3 linked regions of the Homo sapiens genome follow. The protein of the gene in region 3 interacts with the protein of the main gene of each other region in a pairwise test. Each region holds a gene or a part of one and is shown on either strand. Other genes may lie near its edges.

Evidence for each region.
Region 1: the proteins of ODAD1 (region 3) and TXN2 interact in binary tests that used the Homo sapiens proteins (3 or more experiments, as listed by UniProt).
Region 2: the proteins of ODAD1 (region 3) and TPM3 interact in a two-hybrid assay, tested with the Homo sapiens proteins (one large-scale study listed by BioGRID).

What each region holds. Positions count from the first base shown.
Region 1 is NC_000022.11:36,475,063-36,478,710, reverse strand, and holds part of TXN2 (thioredoxin, mitochondrial precursor), read left to right. Parts: intron 1-1,854; coding exon 1,855-1,978; intron 1,979-3,648.
Region 2 is NC_000001.11:154,189,212-154,193,484, forward strand, and holds the start of TPM3 (tropomyosin alpha-3 chain), read right to left. Parts: upstream 2,890-4,273; 5' UTR 2,808-2,889; coding exon 2,691-2,807; intron 2,523-2,690; exon of another isoform or gene 2,418-2,522; intron 2,101-2,417; coding exon 1,975-2,100; intron 1-1,974. UniProt on the Homo sapiens protein: Binds to actin filaments in muscle and non-muscle cells. Plays a central role, in association with the troponin complex, in the calcium dependent regulation of vertebrate striated muscle contraction.
Region 3 is NC_000019.10:48,311,938-48,315,585, forward strand, and holds part of ODAD1 (outer dynein arm-docking complex subunit 1), read right to left. Parts: intron 180-3,648; coding exon 57-179; intron 1-56. UniProt on the Homo sapiens protein: Component of the outer dynein arm-docking complex (ODA-DC) that mediates outer dynein arms (ODA) binding onto the doublet microtubule. Involved in mediating assembly of both ODAs and their axonemal docking complex onto ciliary microtubules.

The sequences.
Region 1 (3,648 bases), on a different chromosome or scaffold from region 3:
GATTACAGGTGTGAGCCATTATGCCCGGCCTATTTTTCAGCATTTAAAACCGTCAGGCCTGGCTGGGTGCGGTGTGCACCACCACACCTGCTACTCAGGAGGCTGAGGCAGGAGAATTGCTTGAACCCGGGAGGCGGAAGTTGCAGTGAGCCGAGATCGCGCCATTGCACTCCAGCCTGGGCAACAGAGTGAGACTCCATCTCAAAAATAAATAAGTAAGTGCTGAGAATAAAATAGGAGTTGTCAGCCAGGGGTTTGTGAAAGGTGGAACTGTCTTGGCCTCCTGGTGTAGTGAGCATTCCAGAGAGGCCTTCCGAAATGAACAATAAATGGGATAATGCCTCATTTTGTTCAGTAAGGAAGTGGGGTGGTGTGAGTTGTTCATTCAGTGCCAGGCACTTTCCTTGGTGCCACATACATAGAGATGACAGCACCAGGCCTGTCCTGGATGAGCTTCCCCAGCGAGAGGGGAATACCTATGATCAGGGCAGTGATAATGGTCAACTCAGGGGCTGTGGGATCAGAGTAGCCTGTGGGTGAAATAAAACACTTTCTCTTTTTTTTTTTTTTTTTTTTTTGAGACAGAGTCTCTGTCGCCCAGGCTGGAGTGCAGTGGCACAATCTCAGCTCACTTCAACCTCTGCCTCCCAGGTTAAAGTGATTCTCCTGCCTCAGCCTTCCTAGAAGCTGGGATTACAGGCGCACACCACCACTCCTGGCTAATCTTTGTATTTTTAGTAGAGACGAGGTTTTACCATGTTGGCCAGGCTGATCTTGAACTCCTGACCTCAGGTGATCCGCCTGCCTCGGCCTCCCAAAGTGCTGGAATTATAGGCGTGGGTCACCGCACCCGGCCAAAGAAAACACTTTCAACACAGCTTTGGGTTGTGATCGATCCCAGCTGTGCTTCTCTAATCTTGCACAGGTTTCTTAACTCGTATGGGCTTCAGTTTCTTTGGAAGGTGTGTTCTCTTTGCAGAGTTGAGGGGTGTGTTTGGTAAAAGCAGAGAAAGTGAGCCAGGGACTGGTGCGTTGTAGACGCTCCAGGCCATTGGTTCCCCTCCTTTTAGTTCTGAGTCCACATGGTGTTTGAAATATCCCCACAGCTTCCAATGCATGTTTACCCACATTGCCTTAGTTGATCTCTCCTAATAGCTTTGAGAGCCATAATCTCTCTTTTTCAGATGAAGAAACTAGGGCCCAGGCCGGGCGCGGTGGCTCATGCCTGTAATCCCAGCACTTTGGGAGGCCGAGACAGGCGGATCACGAGGTCAGGAGATCGAGACCATCCTGGCTAACACGGTGAAACCCCGTCTCTACTAAAAAATACAAAAAATTAGCTGGGCGTGTTGGCAGGCACCTGTAGTCCCAGCTACTGAGGAAGCTGAGGCAGGAGAATGGCGTAAACCAGGGAGGCGGAGCTTGCAGTGAGCCGAGATCGCGCCACTGCACTCCAGCCTGGGGGATAGAGCGAGACTCCGTCTCAAAAAAAGAAAAAAAGGAAACTAGGGCCCCAGAATAATCAGCTGGTTGGTGAGAAGCCTCTGTTTGAACCTTTTAACTTCCAATCCCATATCCTTTTATATGACAGTATATTTATCTGAGATATACTGAAATGAGTCACTTTTATTATGAGTCTTCTGATGAGGCCTGTGTTTTAAAAGTCTGGGATCTGTGAAGATTTCCCATGTGCAGAATCTCCTGGCATTACCATTTGGTGTGTTAATTTTTAAACATGGTAAACAGAGATAATAAGGGCAAAAGATTCCTTGGAAAGATGCAGGTCTGGGAAGCCAGTAGGGGATGCTGAGCGCTCTTTTGACTGACTGGATGCTTCCTTTCTCGCCTTTTGAGGTGGTGTGGACCCTGCAAGATCCTGGGGCCGAGGTTAGAGAAGATGGTGGCCAAGCAGCACGGGAAGGTGGTGATGGCCAAGGTGGATATTGATGACCACACAGACCTCGCCATTGAGTATGAGGTATGGATTGACAGGGAGTTGCCACAGGGAAGCCAGTATAGGAGGTGTCAGGCCCAGGGATAGCTGGTGTAGGAGGTATCTTGGGGAGCACAGGTAGCCAGTAAGCAAGGTGTCTTGGTTTTTCCAGAGCTTTTTTTTTTTGAGACGGAATCTCTCACTGTCACCTGGGCTAGAGTGCAATGGCATGATCTCGGCTCATTGCAACCTCTGCCTCCCGGGTTCACGCGATTCTCCTGCCTCAGCCTCCCAAGTAGCTGGGACTACAGGCGCACACCACCACGCCCAGCTAATTTTTTGTATTTTTAGTAGAGACAGGGTATCACCATGTTGGCCAGACTGGTCTGGAACTCCTGACCTTATGATCCACCCACCTTGGCCTCCCAAAGTGCTGGGATTACAGGCATGAGCCACTGCGCCCAGCCGGTTTTTCGAGAGCTTTTAAGAGCTCAGAGCACTTTGCAGAGGTGGCTCTTGATCCTCTGAGCCACCTGTCTCTCTTCACCACCTTTAGGAAGTAGATCGTATGACCCAAAAACACCAGGTCATTCACTTAGTCTCAGACATTGGTACATTCCTTTATCCATCTACCCACATGTTCAGTGAGCAGTCATTTGGGAGCTCGATGTGCCAAGCATTTGTGATTCTGACACAAGATGAGATCTTGTTTCCAAGCAAGATCTCTCCTAGTCTAGCAGGAGAGAACAGCAGGTAGAAAGATCATCTCAATATAGAAGTGCTAAAAGAAGAGGCGCATAAAGGAAGAAGGGACTGTTTGCTTGTGGGGGAGCTGGAGGGGACAGGGAATGCTTCACGTTAGAGAGAACCTCTGAGCTGAGCCATGAGGGATGCGCAGAGGAGGAGGAAGGGCTGAGGAAACAGCGTGCACAAAGACATGGAGTCGTCTCACTTGGTTGGTTGGTTTGTCTGTTTATTCAGCAGATATTTGAGAGTCCCTCAAGTGCCAGGTAGTGTTACTTGGTGTTGAGGATAAGGCAGTGAACAAAACTGACAAAATCTCTGCCTCCGTGGAGTCTACATTCTAGTATTTTAAATCAAGGGTCAGCAAACTTTTTCTCTAAAGGACTGGTTGGTATTGGAAGCATTGCAGGGCAGTGGTCGCTGCTACAACCATTCAGCTGGGCTCGTAGCCGAAAGCAGCCATAGACACTATACAAACAAATGGGCATGGCTGTGTTACAATAAAACTTTATTTACAAAAACAAGCAGTAGGCTGTATTGGGCCTGTGAACTATAGTTTGCTGACCCCTGTTTTAGATAATAAGTTCAATGGAGAAAAATACATCAGGAAGAGAGGATGGGAGTACTGCGTATGAGGCAGGGTTTTTGTTTTTTCGAGACAGAGTTTTGCTCTTGTTGCCCAAGCTGGAGTGCAGTGGCACAATCTCGGCTCACTGCAACCTCTGCCTCCCGGGTTCAAGCAGTTCTCCTGTCCCAGCCTCCGGAGTAGCTGAGATTACAGGCACGCGCCACCACGCCGGCTAATTTTTTGTATTTTTAGTAGAAATGAGGTTTCACCATGTTAGCCAGGCTGGTCTTGATCTCCTGACCTCGGGTGACCCACCTGCCTTGGCCTCCCAAAGTGCTGGGATTACAGGCGTAAGCCACCGCGCCCAGCGGGTTTCTTTTTTAAAGGGTGGGATAGGGTAGAT
Region 2 (4,273 bases), on a different chromosome or scaffold from region 3:
GTGGCTCACGCCTGTAATCCCAGTACTTTGGGACACTGAGGCAGGCGGATCACTTGAGGTTAGGAGTTCGAGACCAGCATGGCCAACATGGCGAAACCCCATCTTTACTAAAAAAAAAATACAAAAATTAGTTGGGTATGGTGGCACACACCTGCAATCCCAGCTACTCGGAAGGCTGAGGCAGGAGAATGGCTTGAATCCAGGAGGCACAGCTTGCAGTGAGCCTAGATTGTGCCACTGCACTCCAGCCTGGGCAACAGAGCGAGACTCCATCTCAACAACAACAATAAAAAGAAACCTGGCTGGGCGGGGTGGCTCACGCCTGTAATCCCAGCACTTTGGGAGGCCGAGGCAGGCGGATCACCTGAGGTCAGGAGTTCAAGACAAGCCTGACCAATATGATGAAACCCCGTCTCTAGTAAAAATATGAAAATTAGCCAGCCAGGCATGGTGGCACGTGCCTGTAATCCCAGTTACTCAGGAGGCTGAGATAGGAGAATCGCTTCAACCTGGGAGGTGGAGATGGCAGTGAGCCGAGATAGTACCATTTTATTACAGCCTGGGCAACAAGAGTGAAACCCTGTCTCAAAAAAAAAAAAAAAAAAAAAAGGAAAAGAAAAGGAAAGAAACCGGATGGCAGAGAGACCAAATATGAGGATCCGAAAGCATTTATGAATGGTTCACTCTGTCTGTCCTTCTAGCTATTTTCCAAAACCAAATGTGATTTTATTTTATTGACTTATTTTTTGAGACAGAGTCTCTCTCTGTTGCCCAGGCTAGAGTGCAGTGGTACGATCTCGGCTCCATGCAGCCTCCGCCTCCTGGGTTCAAGCGATTCTCCTGCCTCAGCCTCCTGAGTAGCTGGGATTACAGGCACCCGCCACCACACCTGGCTAATTTTTGTATTTTTACTAGAGACAGGGTTTCACCATGTTGGCCAGGCTGGTCTCAAACTCTTGACCTCAGGTGATCCACCCGCCTCGGCCTTCCAAAGTGCTGGGATTACAGGCGTGAGCCACCGCACCCAGCCCAAATATGATTTTAAATATTACATGCTCCTTTTTTCCTATTAACTCAGTTCACTGAGAAACTTGTTTCCACCAATACTGGGACATTTCTGTTGTTGTTGGTAAGATTCCTATGGTACTTTTCTTCTAAAAAACTTTTCAATCTACTCTCTCATTTATCTTTGCAGCAAACTTCAAGGTTAAAGATGAAGGAAAGTAGGTGATGATGATGGGATAATATGAGATGGAAAAGAGAATTTATTTTATTTGAGAATGGGAAAATTCAGCCCTAGACAAGCTGAGTAATTACTCACGGTCATAGAGTGAAGTCTGGTGGTGATACCTTTACCCCCTAAGATTCTTTCTTAGTTTCTATTATACTCTGTCACTGTAGGGATCTCTCTGCTGCCCTAGGAGCAATGCTTCATATGGCATCTCCATGGCATAAAGGCAAATGCCTGCATTGGCCAAGATAAATAAACCCATATATGGCCAGGGTCAGTGTGACCTCCATTTCCCATTGTGAAATCCGAGCTGGTTTTGTTGGACAGTTGAGAGATGAGAGGTTCCCTATTAATACACATATCCACATGCCAAGACTTGGACATAAAAGCTAAGAATGTGGCATGGGGGAGGAGGTAGGATAAGTGACAGCATTCTGAACTTAGAGTCCCCTCTCTTTGTCCAGGTCCTGGGAAAGATAATTAAATTCCTGGGTTGGTGATAGGAGATAAATGAGACCTTTACATGTATTAAAAAAAAACTTTTAACATGTTGGAGATGTCTTTAAGAAAGAAAATACATGCCATTATGAGAATATACCAGCATGTGGTTATATGCAAAAATGTATGTGAGTATATATGTCTGTGTTCCATGAACCCACAAGTGTGTTTGGAATTTCGTCATACATTAACATAAAGATCTATATGTGTAGATTAAACCCATCCTCCATCTCTCTAATACTCACATCAGCAGCCTTCTTCTCTGCCAGTTCCAGCTTCTCCTGGGCATCCTTCAAAGCTTCAGAATACTTGTCCAGCTCATCCTCTGTCCCTTTCAGCTTCTTCTGCATGGCTGCCAGCTCATCCTCCAGCTATAGGAGCCCAGAGAGTCACACACAAAAACACACAAACACAACAATGCAGGGTTGGACCCTGGGCTCTTGGAGCCCTGAGTGTAACCTCCATGTTACCATCCCTAGTGAGACACACTTTCTCCCCAGCCACTTCCAGCCCACTGCCTCAGGAGTTATGCCGTAGCTTGGCCTGTGACCCTGTAATCTCTGATCCTAAGATGACCAAGCCATCCTGGGTTTTCATCCAAGACCCCTGGATGATAAATATCTAAAGTGTAGATGCCCGTGATGCTATTTGAGTGAAAAGAGATGCTCTTTCCCTCTAGAACTCTTACCTTTTCCTCTAGAAGTCAAGGGTTCTTCCAAAACATGGTCCATTTCTACTTAAATTCAGCAGACATACTGTGGCTCACTGACTTTCCCAAGGTCACAAAGGCAGTCTGAGACAGATATGTTAGATATCCTCTGCTCCTCCAGTGAGGCTGGGGAGTCCATCCCACCCCCAAAAAGGAGGTGACACCAGTAGTCACTGTCTTTCCCATGAAAACTCCCTTCCATTTCACAGTCTTGTTCACTAGCAGATGAGAGAGATCAATGCCAGTGCCTACCTGTTTACTTCTTTCTTCTGCCTGCTTCTGCTCAGCTTCAGCTTGCTCTGCCCGATCCAGAGCATTCTCCTTGTCTAACTTCAGCATCTGCATCTTTTTCTTGATGGCCTCCATCATGAGCAGTGGCTGTTGGTAGGCTCACCTGTGAACACTGGAGAACTGGAGACTGGGGCAAGAAAGAAGGGGCTGCTGCCTGAGTGACCAGGAGGTCCCCAGACTTGAGTCTTTATCTGTGCTCATAGCTCCACCTTTTGTTCCTAATATGGTCTTTCCAGCTCCCTCCACCCCATCATTGTTCTCCTGGGGGAACACAGGGTGAGACGCTTTGATGAACTGACATCACCAGCAAAAAAAATATCTAGCAACAGCTGAGGCTGATTTTAGACAATGGAAAGTGGGGGAGGGAAGAGGTTCTCCCTGACCCTGAAACTTTCCACTCATTCTGGGCAGCTCTATGGATGTTTTAAAAGAAGAGGAAGAGGGGAGGGAAGAACATTGAAATAGAGAAGTGTACTTTGGCAATTCTAGGTTGGCAGTTTGCATCCAGGGGGTCCTGGTTGCCTTTCAGCTTCCCGTTTCACTCTCCCCCAGACTGTGTTGAATGCTGGTCAAACTCCGTTAGTTGAGTTTTAGCTTTTGATTCCTGGTATTCAAGGAGCTTGGGCACAGGGAAGAGGGGAGGTCACTCATGATCCTTAACAATTCTCCCAGATCCCCAGATCAAATTGCTGTGCTATTCTGGGAGTCTCCGATTGGCAGGGAGACGTTTTTCCTCCCCACCAAGAGCCACAAGAGTAGAGTAAGAGGTAGGGTTGGAATCTCCAACCCTATCCTTGAAGGCTATCCCAGAGCTTCAAGTGGGGTGGGGAGAGAAACAGGGGAGGGTCAGAACAATCCAGACAGGATCATACCCTTTGTTTTCCCACAGTAATCTTAAAATAGAACTGTTGTACCCACACAGACTTTGGTCTGTGTGGCTCTCTCCTCTTCTTCCCTTTATCTTCTCCCTTCTTAATTCTCCCCAACGCTGCCACTCACCACATCATCGTAATCATCATTATCAGCTCTATTCTTTCCAGTTTAGTTCCAGACCATGTTTATTCTTCCATTGGGAGCCTTGTTACTAACAGGTGGCAAGGATACCAGTCCACTGGCACCATACACCTGAAAATATGCCAAGGGAGAGGTGGGCACTGTTCAAGGTGACCAGATATATTGGACAAATATAAATGGCTCTAGTTAGTCATTTATGTCAGGATACTGAGAGTTAATGCTAAGCCCCAGCAATGGGGGAACGGAGACACCCACCAGGCCAGTGGGTAGAGCAGAGCTGGAGTCCACTATTGAGAGCTTCCAGTCACTAGAGGTAGATAGGCAGATAGACCATCAGCTGACTCTCGACAGAGAGAGGAGAAACCAAGTCTCCTTTCTCTGGAGATTAGCCAGGGAAAGGGGTTAGGGAACAGGGAGAGGAAGGAGTGGAAAATGGGGGGGGGGTGGGCAAGTGAATAAGGGGGAGAAAAATACGAGGACAAGAAAAGGCAAAGAAATGTCCCTTCTAGTATAAGGGGACAAGAAATAGA
Region 3 (3,648 bases):
CAGTTCTTCCCATAACCGCACAATTCAGGTCGAGGGACCAGGAGTTTGACCCTCACCCTGTCCAACTGGTTTTCTAGGATCCTGATCCTTCGCCTGATCTTGACCTTCTGATCCAGGATGAATCCCGGGGACCTGACATTCTTACTGTGGGTAAAGATCCGCGTCTCCCACTCCTGGATCTACAAGAAAGAGGATGGTACCTGTTTTTGGTTGCCTGAATGTGGGAGAGATTGAATGGCCCAGGGAAAATGAGTCACTAAGCATGGCAAACATCTGCTGTCCCTGTCACCCCAGAATAACATCTACCCTTCTGCTGACACTATCCAGCCCTCCATGTGGTTCTGGTGGGCCTTCCAACCACAGTGTATCACCCTATCAGCCACATGACCCAGGTCTGGACACTCACAGGGATTGGCCTAGAGATGGGAATGTGACCCCATGGAGCTAGCCTGACTCCTTTCCGTTTTTTTTTTTGTTTTTTTTTTTTTTTTTTTTGAGACAGAGTCTTGCTCTGTCTCCCAGGCTGGAGTGTGCAGTGGCGCGATCTTGGCTCACTGCAACCTCCACCTCCCAGGCTCGAGCAATTCTAGTGCCTCAACCTCCCGAGTAGCTGGGATTACAGGCACGTACCACCACACCCAGCTAATTTTTGTATTTTTAGTAGAGATGGGGTTTCACCATGTTGGCCAGGCTGATCTTGAACTCCTGACCTCAAGTGATCCACCCGCCTTGGCCTCCCAAAGTGCTGGGATTACAGGCAAGAGCCACTGCACCCGGCCCTGACTCCTTTCCTGATAGTCTGGGGGAAGCACATGAGATGGAAGGATGGGATTCCAGGACTTCTCCTGTCATGGCCCCACCACAGGGAGGGTCCTGGGAGAATGAGGCCAGTGGACAGAAGTGGAGATGAGAGTCGGAGAGACGGTGAGAATGAACTTGATGACATTAGTAGCCCTGGGTCTGCTTATGCCTAAGACCAGCTTCCAATCTGTCCTCATTTCTGTATTCATCTGTACTTATTGGGGTGTGCTCTGTCTCTCCCAGCAAACTGGGGGTTCCATGAGGACACAGAGTCTTGTGTTTTCTCCCTGTCCGAGACAAAGAAGGTATTCAACATAACATGCAGACTAAATAGATAAATGAATTGCTCAACACTTCAATTTGTGCTCTGTTATGGGTTGAATCATGTCCCATAAAAACTCATATGTTGGCCGGGCACGGTGGCTCACACCTGTAATCCCAGCACTCTGGGAGGCAGAGGTGGGTGAATCAGCTGAGGTCAGGAGTTCAAGACCACCCTGGCCAACATGGCGAAACCCCACCTCTACTAAAATACAAAAATTAGCAAGGCGTGGTGGCAGGCACCTGTAATCCCAGCTACTCGGGAGGCTGAGGCAGGAGAATTGCTTGAACCCAGGAGGAGAGGTTGCAGTGAGCTGAGATTGTGCCACTGCACTCCAGCCTGGGGAACAGAACAAGACTCCATCTCAAAAAAAAAAAAAAAAAAAACCAAAAAAAAACCTCACATGTTGAAGTCTTAACCCCCAGTACTTTAGAATGTGACCTTATTTGGAGACAGAGTCTTCATAGAAGTAATTAAAATGAGGTAATTAAGGTGGGCCCTAATCCACTACGACGAGGTGTTCTTAGAAAAATGGGAAATTGCTGGGTGTGGTGGCTCATGCCTGTAATCCCAATACTTTGGAAGGCTGAGGCAGGATGATCTCTCGAAGCCAGGAGTTCAAGACCAGCCTGGGCCACAAAGCAAGACCCCATCTCTACAAGATACAAAATAAATTAGCTGGGCATGGTGGTGCACACCTGTAGTCCTAGCTACTTGGGAAGCTGAGGTGGCAGATCCCTTGAGACAAGGAGCTCGAAGCTGCAGTGAGCTGTGATTGAGCCACTGTACTCCAGCCTGGGTGACAGAGGGAGATCCTGTCTCAAAACAAAACAAAACAAAAAAGGAAATTTGGACATAGATACGCACACAGGGAGAATGCCACGTAAGGATAAAGACAGAGGTCAGGTGTGGTGGCTCACGCCTGTAATCCCAACACTTTCGGAGGCTGAGATGGGTGGATAACTTGAGGTCAGGAGTTCGAGACCAGCCTGGCCAACATGGCGAAACCCCATCTCTACTAAACATACAAAAATTAGCCAGGTGTGGTGGCACATGCCTGTAATCCCAGCTACTTGGGAGGCTGAGGCAGGAGAATCGCTTGAACCCAGGGGGTGGAGGCTGCAGTGAGCTGAGAGATTGGGTGACATGTCTACAAGCCAAAGTACCCAAGACTGCCAGCAAACCGGCAGAAGCAGAGAGAGAGAGGCATGGAACAGACAGATTCTCCCCCACACTGCTCAGAAGGAACCAAACCTGCCTACATCTTGATCTTGGACTTCTGGCCTTTGGAACTATGAGAAAACATATTTTTGTTATACGAGCCACCCAATTTGTGGAACTTTGTCATAGCAGCCCTAACAAACTAATCCACGTACCAAAGATACCCCAGAAGGCTGCAGCAAACTTAAGACTCAGCATGAGGATGTTTTAAATTTTTGAGGAAGACCTTGATATTGGTCAGATACCACATGAACTGCTAGCTTAAGGCAGTTCACAAGTTCAACATGAGAGGGCGCTATCATCCTTTTGAAGATGTCACATCTTTGTGAGACTGGATTTTCAGCAGTTGCTGCAATAAAAGCCAAATACCCAATTGTTGGTGGGCGCAGTGTCTCACGCCTGTAATCCCAGCACTTTGAGAGGCCGAGGCGAGTGGATCACCTGAGGTCAGGAGTTTGAGACCAGCCTGGCCAAAATGGTGAAACCCCATCTCTACTAAAAATACAAAAATTAGCTGGGCGTAATGGCACGTGACTGTAATCCCAGCTACTCGGGTGGCTGAAGCACGAGAATCACTTGAGCCTGGCCTGGGAGGTGGAGGCTGCAATGAGCCGAGATTGCACCACTGCACTCCAGCCTGGGTGACTGAGCGAGACTCCACCTCAAAAAAGAAAAGAAAAAGAAATGTCCAAAATGTTGACACTGGGGGAAAATGCAGCAAAGTGTACAAGGGATGTCTCTGCATTATTTCTTTCAACTGCACATGAATCCCAACAAAATTTTCTTTCTTTCTTTTATTTTTTCTTTTTTTTAGAGACAGGGTCTCACTCTGTCACCCAGGCCGAGTGCAGTGGCACCATCATAGCTCACTGCAGCCTCCACCTCCCAGGCCAGGCTCAAGCAATCCTCCTGCCTCAGTAATTGCTTTATGAAAGAAGAGATGACATACGGTAAAACTGCACATATTTAGTGTTCAATGTGGGATGGGCACGGTGGCTCACGCCTGTAATCCCAGCACTTTGGGAGGCTGAGGTGGGCAGATCCCCTGAGGTCAGGAGTTCGAGACCAGCCTGGCCAACATGGCGAAACCCCGTCTCTACTAAAAATACAAAATTAGCCAGGCATCGTGGCAGGCACCCGTAGTCCCAACTACCCAGGAGGCTGAGGCAGAAGAGTTGCTTGAACCCAGGAGGTGGAGATTGCAGTGAGCTGAGACTGCGCCACTGCACTCCAGCCTGGGTGACAGAGCGAGACTCCATCTCTAAATAAATAAATAAACTGTGTAATTGTTATGTTTTGACATA